Linked DNA regions of Homo sapiens: region 2 is linked to region 1. Evidence: fine-mapped expression QTL. A gene starts in region 1. The other region holds a variant in brackets. All regions are shown on one strand. Distances are from middle to middle.

The links. PIP is the estimated chance that this variant, and not a neighbour inherited with it, causes the effect.
Region 2: its variant is fine-mapped to the expression of VPS33B-DT in esophagus muscle (GTEx, PIP above 0.99).

Annotation. Positions count from the first base shown.
Region 1 is chr15:91,020,216-91,025,591 of GRCh38, forward strand. It overlaps VPS33B-DT (VPS33B divergent transcript), which reads left to right and starts at 2,407. Exons shown (of 4, transcript NR_110104.1): 1 at 2,407-2,525; 2 at 3,098-3,756. VPS33B (VPS33B late endosome and lysosome associated) reads right to left here and starts at 2,379. Exons shown (of 23, transcript NM_018668.5): 1 at 1,939-2,379. The coding sequence starts at 2,034. RefSeq lists enhancers at 1,463-2,079, 1,934-2,343.
Region 2 is chr15:91,027,001-91,032,376 of GRCh38, forward strand. VPS33B-DT (VPS33B divergent transcript) reads left to right here. Exons shown (of 4, transcript NR_110104.1): 3 at 2,881-3,241; 4 at 3,659-4,139. It also overlaps the pseudogene LOC390638. Among named protein-coding and RNA genes, the nearest start is that of VPS33B-DT, 7.1 kb to the left of the region's middle. The variant C/T (reference allele first, on the strand shown) is at 3,219.

The DNA.
Region 1 (5,376 bases):
ATTTTCTATAATGTGCAAGTGTTATTTTATAATCACCATAAAAAAGTTATGTGTAAAGAAGTATCCATGGAACTCAGCAACTGGTTCAGTTAAGTATCAGGGTGAAGGAGAGGCAAAGATGATTCTGATATTTCAAGCTGAATAGCAGTGCACATTAACAAAAATTAAGTCAGAAGTTAGTTAGGAGAGGACGTTATTGCCTGGAAATCCACTTTGGCCATGCTGAATCACCCAGTGGGCTCAAGTTTCTCTTCTTGGTCTCCTCTACTTGATCTCACCTGAACTAGTGGCTTTAACTAGCACCTCTTTTAAATTCTTCAGACATTGTTGCAAGTCTTTTATGTGCATGTCACTGTGCAAGCACTAAGTATTAAAGAGAAAGAAGCCGGGAGTGGTAGCTCAAGCCTATAATCCCAGCACTTTGGGAGGCTGGGACGGGCAGATTACCTGAGGTCAGGAGTTTGAGACCAGCCTGGCCAACATGGTGAAACCCTATCTCTACTAAAAATACAAACATTAGCCAGGTGGGCTAGCGTGCGCCTGTAATCCCAACTACTGGGGAGGCTGAGGCAGAAGAATCGCCTGAACCCGGGAGGTGGAGGTTGCAGTTAGCCAAGATCGCGCCACTGCACTCCAGCCTGGGCAACGGAGTGAGACTGTGTCTCAAAAAAATAAATAAAATAAAATAGAAATAAAATCTGGTCTAAGATGCCCTGCAGTTCTCATCTTGATCCATCTTCCTTCCAGTCCTCACAATGCAGCTGCAGTTCTACATTTCTATCTGCTGGATGTTACAAGCTATATTTCTTACGGGCATCTTAACTTCCCCCATCCAAACCCAAACAAATCAACTTCCCCCATCAAACCTGTTCCTTTTTCTAATTATTTTTCTCATTTCTATTCAATGTTAATACAACAAATATTTATTAAGCACATGGTGTGTGCTTGACTCTAAGCTAGGTACTCACTAGGTAGTGTTGAACAAAACAAACATGATCCCTGCCCACCTTCCAGTCTAATGAGGAATACAGACATAAAATGAATAACTAAATGATTACACAAGTAATCCATTAAAATCACAGTGGCAGTATTATTTTCCTAATAACCCAGGTTAAAAATCTCACTCATTTTTGCTTCTCCTTCAACATTTATAACCAATCAGTAAGTCTTTGAGTTTTCTTTCACCATAACTTAAAAATCCATCACTTTCCTTCATTCCCACTGCTACCAATTTTGTGTGGGCCTTTATTTCTTGTCTGATCTACGGTCTCCTAACTGGCCTTCTTGTTGCCCATTTACGCCACCACACACATCACTATTAGAATCATCAAGTATTGTCTCATGCCACAAATGGAAAAAAAATTTTTTTCAGTGGCTACTGTGTAACTGCTGATGGGTGTCTTCCCTTACATGCCTTGTCTTTCCCTGGTTTGCCAACTTTGCTCCTACCAATCTATCTGCCTGGAGCATGCTTAGTCTCCAAAGAAAATATGCTTATTACTCACACTCACTTCCTTGAAGCTCCTAGATCATCACCCCAACTAGAAATGATCACTTACTGTGAACTCTTCGGGTACACTAGCTCTATCACTCATTTACCACCTGTGTGTGATAATTTGTGCTTCATACAGCTCCTACTGGAGTGGTAAGATCCCTAATGGCAAAGATGTCTTAACCATCTTTCCGTCCCTAGGGATGCCTGGCACTAATGGTGTCTCCCTTGCCTGTATGCGGGGTTGGGGGGTGATTTCCATTAACTCTCTGGCCAGGTTCCAAACAGCTCTTACTACTCCCTGGATTCATTCTGGACCTGCTGGGGAAGCGCCAAGGACAATACCAGGGGCCAAGAACAAGATCAAAGGGGCACGGCAAGGAAGAAATGTGCATCCAATGAGTGCTAAACTGTAGATGCGATAAAGGCGTCAGGCAAGCACTGACCTGCTCCAGCAGATAGATGAGCTGGTCTCGAGCCAGCCTCTTCAGCATGGAGAAGTCAGGCAGCTCAGGGGCGTCCGGCCGATGGGGAAAAGCCATGGCAGCGGTCACCTGCGCCGCGGGGTGGAAGGACGCCCTTCGTTCTGAGAAGGCCGGCCGCAGCCCAGGGAAGCGCAAGGGGGGCTATCCTTCAGGCCTGGGCACCGACTTCCAGAGACCCCAGATGGGCCCTCGCTCCTCAGCAGCACTCCAGGAATGAATGGCCACCTCCAGGCAAGAGAGCTACTACCTCGGAGCAGCCTTGTCTCAGACCTGCAGCCACCGTGTCTCGACCCTCCCTCCCTGATCCACTCTGCCCGTCAGCAGGATTCCGGTCTACACCCCGCAGAGACTCCGCAGCGTACGAGGAGAACCCCGCCTTCTACCAGAAAAAGAAGCGACTTCCTAGATCTCCCGGAAGTCCCTTTCGCTCCCAGCGCTTCGCGTACCAGGAAGGGGACGGCGTCCTGAAAGGGACATTTGAAAAACGGAGGCAACGCGTCTATTAATTAGGTGGCGGCGCCTGGGGTCGCAGCACTCCAGAGGCTGAGGTGGGAGAATCGCTCGAGTCAGGGAGGCGGAGGTTGCAGTGAACTGCGATCGCGCTACTGCACCCCAGCCTGGGCAACAAAGCTAGACCTTGCCTCAAAAAAAAAAAAAAAAAAAAAAAAAAAGACATAATGAATGCATCAGGCTAGCTAACAATACCTCAACTCTGATCAATCATACCATCATATCATTTCCTGGTGAGATGCATAGGAAATACAGAGCATCACCTATTGCCAAAAATTGAACCTAATCAAGCCTCAAGATCTAACTACCAGTTTATAGGCTATATAGAGATTAGCAGGAATATGTTAAGACACCAAAGGTATGAAATCAACCATATCCAAAATGTAGGAAATTATATGGGACAAATGATCTGTCGTCTTCAAAAAAATGGCAAAGTGGGAAATGTGGGAGGGGAAAACACTTCAGAATAAAAGAGATTTAAGAGATGTATCAACAAAATGTTTCAATGTGTGGATCTTTTTTGGATAATAATTCAAAGATAACTGATTTAAGGAATTACTAAAACTTTTCGGGTATTGTATTTCTTTTCTTCTCTTTTTTTTCCTGACAGAGTCTCGCCCTTTTGCCTAGTGGAGGAGCTCGGCTCACTGCAAGCTCCGCGCCACAACCCCCCTGCCGCCCCAGGTTCAAGAGATTCTCCTGCCTCAGTCTCCCGAGTAGACTGGGATTACAGGCGAGTGCCACCATGCCCGGCTAATTTTTGTATTTTTGGTAGAGACGGGGTTTCATTATGTTGGCCAGGCTGATCTCGAACTCCTGACCTCAAGTGATCCGCCTGCCTTGGCCTCCCAAAGTGCTGGGATTACAGGCGTGAGCCACAACGTTGGGCCAGGTATTGTATTTCTATGTTATTATTATTTTTTGTATTTCTATGTCATACAGGCTTGTATTTCTGTTAAAAACAAGTCCTTATCTCTTTGAGATACATACTGAAGTTTTTACAGGTGAAATAATTTGGCCAGGAGTAATGGTTCATGTCTCTAATTCCCACCACTTTGGGAGGTCCAGGTCGGGGTCGGGGGGTTGCTTGAGGCCAGGAGTTTGAGATAAGATTGGTCAACTACAACACATAAAAAATAGCCAGGCATGGTGGTGGGCACCTTTAATCTCGATACTTGGGAGGCTGAGGCAGGAGGATCACTTGAGCCCAGGAGTTTGAGGCTGCAGTGCGCTACGATCATGCTACAGCACCCCAGCCTGGGCAACAGAGTGAGACACCGTTTGTTTTTTCTTTTCTTTTTTTTTTTTTGAGACAAGGTCTGGCTTTATCTATCACCCAGGCTGGAGTGCAGTGATATGTTCTGTCTCTTTTTTTTTTGAGATGGAGTTTCGCTCTTGTTGCTCAGGCTGGAGTGCAATGGCACGATCTCAGCTCACTGCAACCTCCACCTCCCAGGTTCAAGCGTTTCTCCTGCTGCAGCCTCCTGAGTAGCTGGGATTACAGGCATGTGCCACGCACCCAGCTAATTTTGTATTTTTAGTAGAGACAGAGTTTCTCCATGTTGGTCAGGCTGGTCTTGAACTCCTGACCTCAGGTGATCTTCCCGCCTCAGTCTCCCAAAATGCTGGGATTGTAGGCATGAGCCGCCATGCCTGGCCCGATCTGTCTCTTAAAAAATAAAAAAAAAAACTAAAATATGTTTGGGATTTGCTTTAAAATAACCCAGGGGGAGATGTAGGAACATTCAGGAAAAAGATTGGGCCAGGCACGGTGGCTCACGCCTGTGAACCCAGACCGAGGCAGGTGGATTGCTTGAGCCCAGGAGTTCAAGACCAGCCTAGGCAACACAGTAAGACCCCCATGTCTATAAAAAAATTAAAAAATGATTGGCCATTTGTTAATTGTTAAAGCTGATGGGTACATGGGGGTTTATTGCATTTTAGTATTCTACGTCTTTATTTAGAGATGGAGTGTTGCTCTGTTGCCCAGGTTGGAGTGCAGAGGTATAGTCATAGCTCACAGCAGCTTTGAGCTCCTGGGCTCAAGTGATCCTCCCACCTCAGCCCCCCAGATAGCTGGAATACAGGCACATGCCACTTTGCTGAACTTCTCCCTACGTTTCTATGTTTGAAAAGCTGTATAATACAAGGTTAAGCAAAAAACAAAAAACACGCTATGCTCACACTGGACTTTGAGAGCTCATATGGTATTTTATGCTGAGCCTTTCTTCCCACTAACGCCCTTAGATTGAATCTTGGCTGCAGTGGGAGATGGAGGTTGCCCTAAAGTGGTGGGATTTACTCCCACTGCTGCTTAAAGAAGATGAGTGAGGCATTACATTACACTCCTTCTTTTCCCCCCCGGAATCTCACTCTGTTGCCCAGGCTGAAGGGCAGTGGTGCTGTCTTGGCTAACTGCAACCTCCGCCTCCCAGGCTCATGCGATTCTCCTGCCTCAGACTCTGGAGCAGCTGGAGTTACAGGCATGCGCCAGCACTCCCAGCTAATTTTTGTAGTTTTGGTAGAGATGAGGTTTCTCCATGTTGGCCAGGCTGGTCTCGAATCCTGACCTCAGGTGATCCACCTGCCTCAGCCTCCCAAAGTGCTGGGCTTACAGGCGTGAGCCACCGCGCCCAGCCTTATTTTTATTTTTATCCCATGACTTTTTTTATCCCATAACTTTTTCTTCCTAAGTTTTTTCCATAACTTTTTTTTTTTTTTTGAGATGGAGTCTTGCTCTGTCACCCAGGCTGGAGTGCAATGGTGCATCTGGGCTCACTACAACCTCCACCTCCCGGGTTCAAGCAATTCTGCTGCCTCAGCCTCCTGAGTAGCTGGGACTACAGGCACGCACCACCATGCCCAGCTAATTTTTTGTATTTTTAGTAG
Region 2 (5,376 bases), 6.8 kb after region 1:
AGAGATGGAGTCTCACTCTTTTGCCCAGGCCAGACTGCAGTGGCGCTATCTCGGCTCACTGCAAGCTCGGCCTCCTGGGTTCATGCCATTCTCCTGCCTCAGCCTCCCCAGTAGCTGGGACTACAGGTGCCCGCCACCGTGCCTGGCTAATTTTTTATATTTTTTAATAGAGACGGGGTTTCACCATGTTAGCCAGGATGGTCTCGATCTCCTGACCTCGTGATCCGCCCACCTCGGCCTCCCAAAGTGCTGGGATTACAGGCACTAGCCACTGCACCTGGCCCATGCCTGGCCTATTTTTATAGAGACAGGGTCTCACTGTGTTGCCCAGGCTGGTCTCAGACTCCTGGACTCAAGTGATCCACCCACCTTGGCCTCCCAAACTGCTGGCATTACAACTGTGAGCCACTGTGCCTGGCCTATTTTTATAGAGATGGGGGGGGTCTTGCCATGTTGCCAAGGCTGGTCTTGAACTGCTGGCTTCAAGCAATCTTCCAGCTTTGGCCTCCCAACGTGCTGGGATTACAGGCGTGAGCTACTGTGTGTGGTCTAAAGTCTATTGATAACATTTTGAGTGATACTTATTAAAAAATAAAAAAGTTTTATAGGTATTTGTGTTAGCTTTTTTATTGTTGTATAACAAAATACCGCAAGCATAATGGCTGAAAATAACACATATCTCACAGCTGGGCACAGTTGAGCTGGGTCCTCTTCTTAGGGTTTCACAGCACTATAATCCAGGTGTCAGCTGGGGCTGTAGTGTGTCTCATCAAAGGGCCAACTGGGGAAAAAGACTGACTTCCAAGCTCCTTCAGCGTGTTTGGCAGAATTCATCTTTAACTGTAGGACTGAAGTCTGTTTCCTTGATGACCTTTGGCTCTGAGTTGGGAGCTGCTCTCACCTAGGGACTGCCTGAAGCTCCTTGTTGCCTGGCTTATCTGTAGACTGTCTTACAACATGGCAGCTTGCTTCTTTAAAGCCAGCAAGGGCTTCTCCAGTCTGCTAAGATGGTATCTTATATAGAACATAACACAGGAGTGACATCCCATCACTTTTGCTATATTCTTTTGGTTAGAAACAAGTCAGGTCTCCCATCCCAGCACTTTGGGAGGCCGAGGCAGACAGATCACTTGAGGTCAACCGTTTGAGACTAGCCTGGCCAACATGGTGAAACCCCATCTCTACTAAACATGTACAAAAAAAATTAGCCAGGCGTGGTGGCTAATCCCACCAACTGTAATCCCAGCTACTAGGGAGGCTGAGGCAGGATAATCACTTGAACCCGGGAGGTGGAGGCTGCAGTGAACTGAGATCGCGCCACTGCACTCCAGCCTGGGTGACAAAGTGAGATTCCATCTCAACAACAACAACAACAAGAAACAAGTCAGGTCTTGCCTACACTCAAAACGAGGGGAGTGTATAAGGTGTAACATGGGGAATGTGTGGAGATCACGGGACCCACTTTAGAATTCTGCCTACTATAGTATGCTAATGATCTCTAATAGATGTCTAATAATCAGCAGAGAATATTTTCAGTTTTATCTTCATTGAGTACCTTTTTTAGATTGATAACTAATGAAACATTATTTTTACATTAATTACATTTCCTTAGCTTTCTTGTGAGGGTTTAGAAGTCAGTCTATACATTTATCCTGGGCTGTATTTTTTTGTGGGCTTTCTAGGGTGGGATGTGAGTACACAGAGTTTACACATACCTCACTGAAACTGTTTTTTTCTTTGCGGCACTGTAAGGGCTGTGGTAATGAAGGCTGGGAGCGATGGCTCACACCTGTAATCCTAGCACTCTGGGAGGCCAAGGCAGGTAGATCACTTGAGGCCAAGAGTTCGAGACCAGCCTGGCCAACATTGTGAAACCCCCGTCTCTACTAAAAATACAAAAATTAACTGGGCATGGTGGTGCATGCCTGTAATCCCAGTTACTCAGGAGGCTGAGGCAGGAGAATAGCTTGAATCAGGGAGTTGGAGGTTGCAGTGAGCCAAGATCGCGCCACTGCACTCCATCCTGGCAACAGAGCGAGACTCCATCTCAGAAAAGCAAAGAAGTCTTCCGTTTGCACAAAGGGAAAGTAAAAAATTGTTTAAATTAACCAGAAGTCTGTAACGAGGTTAAGTAAGGGCTAAATGTTGTCGTTTCTTGTTTATCATTAGGAACATGTGATGATGGTAGTGCTGGTGTTGAGGGTGACTGGGCTCAGAAATGATCATAGGTGCGCCTAGGTTTTGAGGCCTAATTTTCTAGTTTCTAGAAATGAGGTTAGAAACAAGAGTTCTGATCAAAATCTCCCTTGGCTATTACTGTTAATATGGTTTGCATCTAGAATGACACAGAAACTCATTACCCATATCTTTTCTATGGCAGTGAGGAAAACAGAGTAAGTTCATGAACATAGGGATTTAGCCTTGGGTAACGAGGAAGGGTATGAAGCAAGGTTGCTGACATTTCTAAATGTCTGGAATCTGATTTGAGGCTGGGCACAGTGGCTTATACCTGTAATTCCAGCACTTTGGGAGGCCCAGGTGGGAGGATTGCTCAAGCCCAGCAGTTTGAAACCAGCCTGGGCAACATGGCAAGACACCATCTCTGCAAAAAATACAAAACATCAGCCAGGCATGGTGGTGCGCACCTATGATCCCAGCTACTGAAGAGGCTGAGGTGGGAGGATCCCTTGAACCCAGGAAGTTGAGGCTGCAGTGAGTCATGTTCACACCACTGCAGTCCAGCCTGGGTCACAGAGCGAGACGCTGTCTCAAACAATAAATAATCAACCCGATTGTGGCCGATGAAAAATTTGGCAGTTTGATTTGGAGCTCATGGAAACTTTCTCAAGTTCATGATTAATCTTTTCCCATATTTTGAAGTTCTAGGACAAGGAGACTGGCTTTCACAGAGGTTCGGGTTGGGTTCAGTTTTCTTCAGAAGAACTTCAGAATGCACTACAACAGGAAAATCATATTCTAGATGGAGTCAAGTCAATCTGTTTGTATACCAGATACATCTATGATATACATGCAGCTACTATCTGATTATGTATCAATTAAATAGATCATAAATGTGGAACGATGGGGACTTTGAGAGATTTGTAACTGAAGCTGCCTTCATGCTTGTTAGAATGCTGGGGTGGAAGAGTTCCCAGTTTTAAAGGAGAAGTACAAGAAGACCTGTAATTGTTAGCAAGATATACAGAACACAGTGCACA[C/T]AGCAGCGCACTTCTCAAGTCAGGTAAGCTGGGGCTGAAATCTTGCCTTTCCTGCTTATTATGCGATCTTGGGCCAGATTGATTTATATTTTATTTTTTAATTTATTTGTTTTCGTTGAGACTGGGCCTTTCTATGCTGCAGGTTAGTTTTGAACTCCTAGCCTCAAGCTGTCCTCTTGCCTCAGCCTCCCACAGTGCTGGGGTTATAGGACTGAGCCACTGTGACTTGCCCAATTTACAATTTTTAATGGAGGGTGAGGGAGTCATAGGAACAACAAAGATGGTAAAGGGAGTTTGAGGAGAAAACAAATAAAAGAACAAGGTGCACATAAAAACTGCCTGAGTTCTTTTCACTGACTCCCTCATAAAAAGGCGATTTTCAGATCGAATGTTTTTGCAGACATTGCCTTTCCTTCCTTACAGTGCTTATTTTTTTCCAGCTCCAGGTTCAAGCTCAAAGGCCTAAAGTTTTGCAAACATCTGGTGAAGAGGAAGATTTTTGAGACTCTCCCAGCCTATTACATAAAGGAAACATAACCGAGAATTTTGTCTAAAGGTTTTCATTTGAAACAAAGCAAGAGCTTCTTTTCCCCACTCCGAATTAAAACACAGCGCAACAGGGGCCACATTTATTTGGCAGGACAGTACCAATATGTGAACATCCTCCTCCTCACTGCCGTTGGGGTGACTTGACTCATAAGCAGCTGTTCTTACACAAAATATTAACCCGAACTGCTAGTGTCACACAGAAGGAAGTGGTCTTGATTGTGTATGTGGGCCAGCATGTTCTACAAATGCTGAAAGGTGGGAGAAGCACAAATACAACCCACTCTTTAAAAAAACTAAATAATTCAAAGTAAAATTTTCTATCCCCGCCCCCTCCCCACCCTTGCCTTCTCCAATAATAAAAAGTAGAATCCAGATTTGGTTTGTATCCTGACCATTCACAAAGTGTCGTGCCACAGCACTTGCATCATTAGGGTTATGGATGATCACAGTTCATTTGCTTTGAAGAGACGTGTGTCTGCTCCTTCCTCCTCTTCTTGCCTTCATGCTCATGTTCTCTGGGGCAGCTGCTGAGGGTCTTTGAGGGCCACCATGCTGTCTGGCTTCTTCCAAAAATGTGTCCAAATCAAAAGAATCTTCCTCAAACTGAACTGGTCCTTCTCAGCCTCTCGGCTTCTCTGTCTATGGTCTGAAAAACTCCTTGTTGGGAACAAATCTAGGGAACAAGAGAAAAGACTATGAACTACTTTATTTTCACTGGTGTAAACACTGAAACAGAGTTGTATGGCTTGATACCTGTTGGTCTTTCTTCTGGCTTCTAGGTCATGACCATACATATCCTTGTCCAGGTTTTTACCAGACCTATAAATACTCTGGGCCATATCTTTATTTACCACCTCTCCAGGCTTGATCGTAAACATTATAAATTTTGTCTTCTCCACCTGCAAATCCACTGTCCATACCCTGTAGAAAAGTGGATGACATTAAATGAAAATATAAACACCAATTATTAAAAGATGAATCTGACAACATTCATGTGAAGAGTAAACTCTTGCTAATTTGTAGCTCAAATTTTCCACAGCCTGAACTGCAAATTGTAAAAAAGTCTTCATTGGACTGGGTGTGGTGATTTAGGCCTGTAATCCCAGCACTTTGGGAGGCCGAAGAGGGCAGATCACTTGAGGTCAGGAGTTCAAGACCAGCCTGGCCAACATGGAGAAAGCCCGGTGGGTCTCCCCACACGCGGAATCGCCCCCGGTCCTTGGGGTTGGGGCTGCCGCCTCTGGCTCCTTCTGGGCCAAGGCCACTGGGTGAGCCAGGTGCTGGCAACACACCCTTTGCTCCTTCAGCTGCCCATGTAGCTGTGCCTGCTGCTCCTCCTCGGCACTGACTAAAGCTGAGTTTAAAAAGGCCACCTGCAGGCAAGACATATGCATTCTTGTAGGGGGATACACAGGACAAACGCGGCAGGGAGGGGGAGAGGAGGTCTTCCTTTGGGGCCTCAGAGGGTGCACCTGTGGGTCACAGGTGAAATGATGTCTGATCACTGGCTCCCAGGGAAGGCACGAGGGTCCAGAGAAATCAGAGGGCAGGAAACAAAGAGCAAAAGGGGGTCTGGGAGGGACCACAGAGGGAGGCAGCAAAGGTGGGG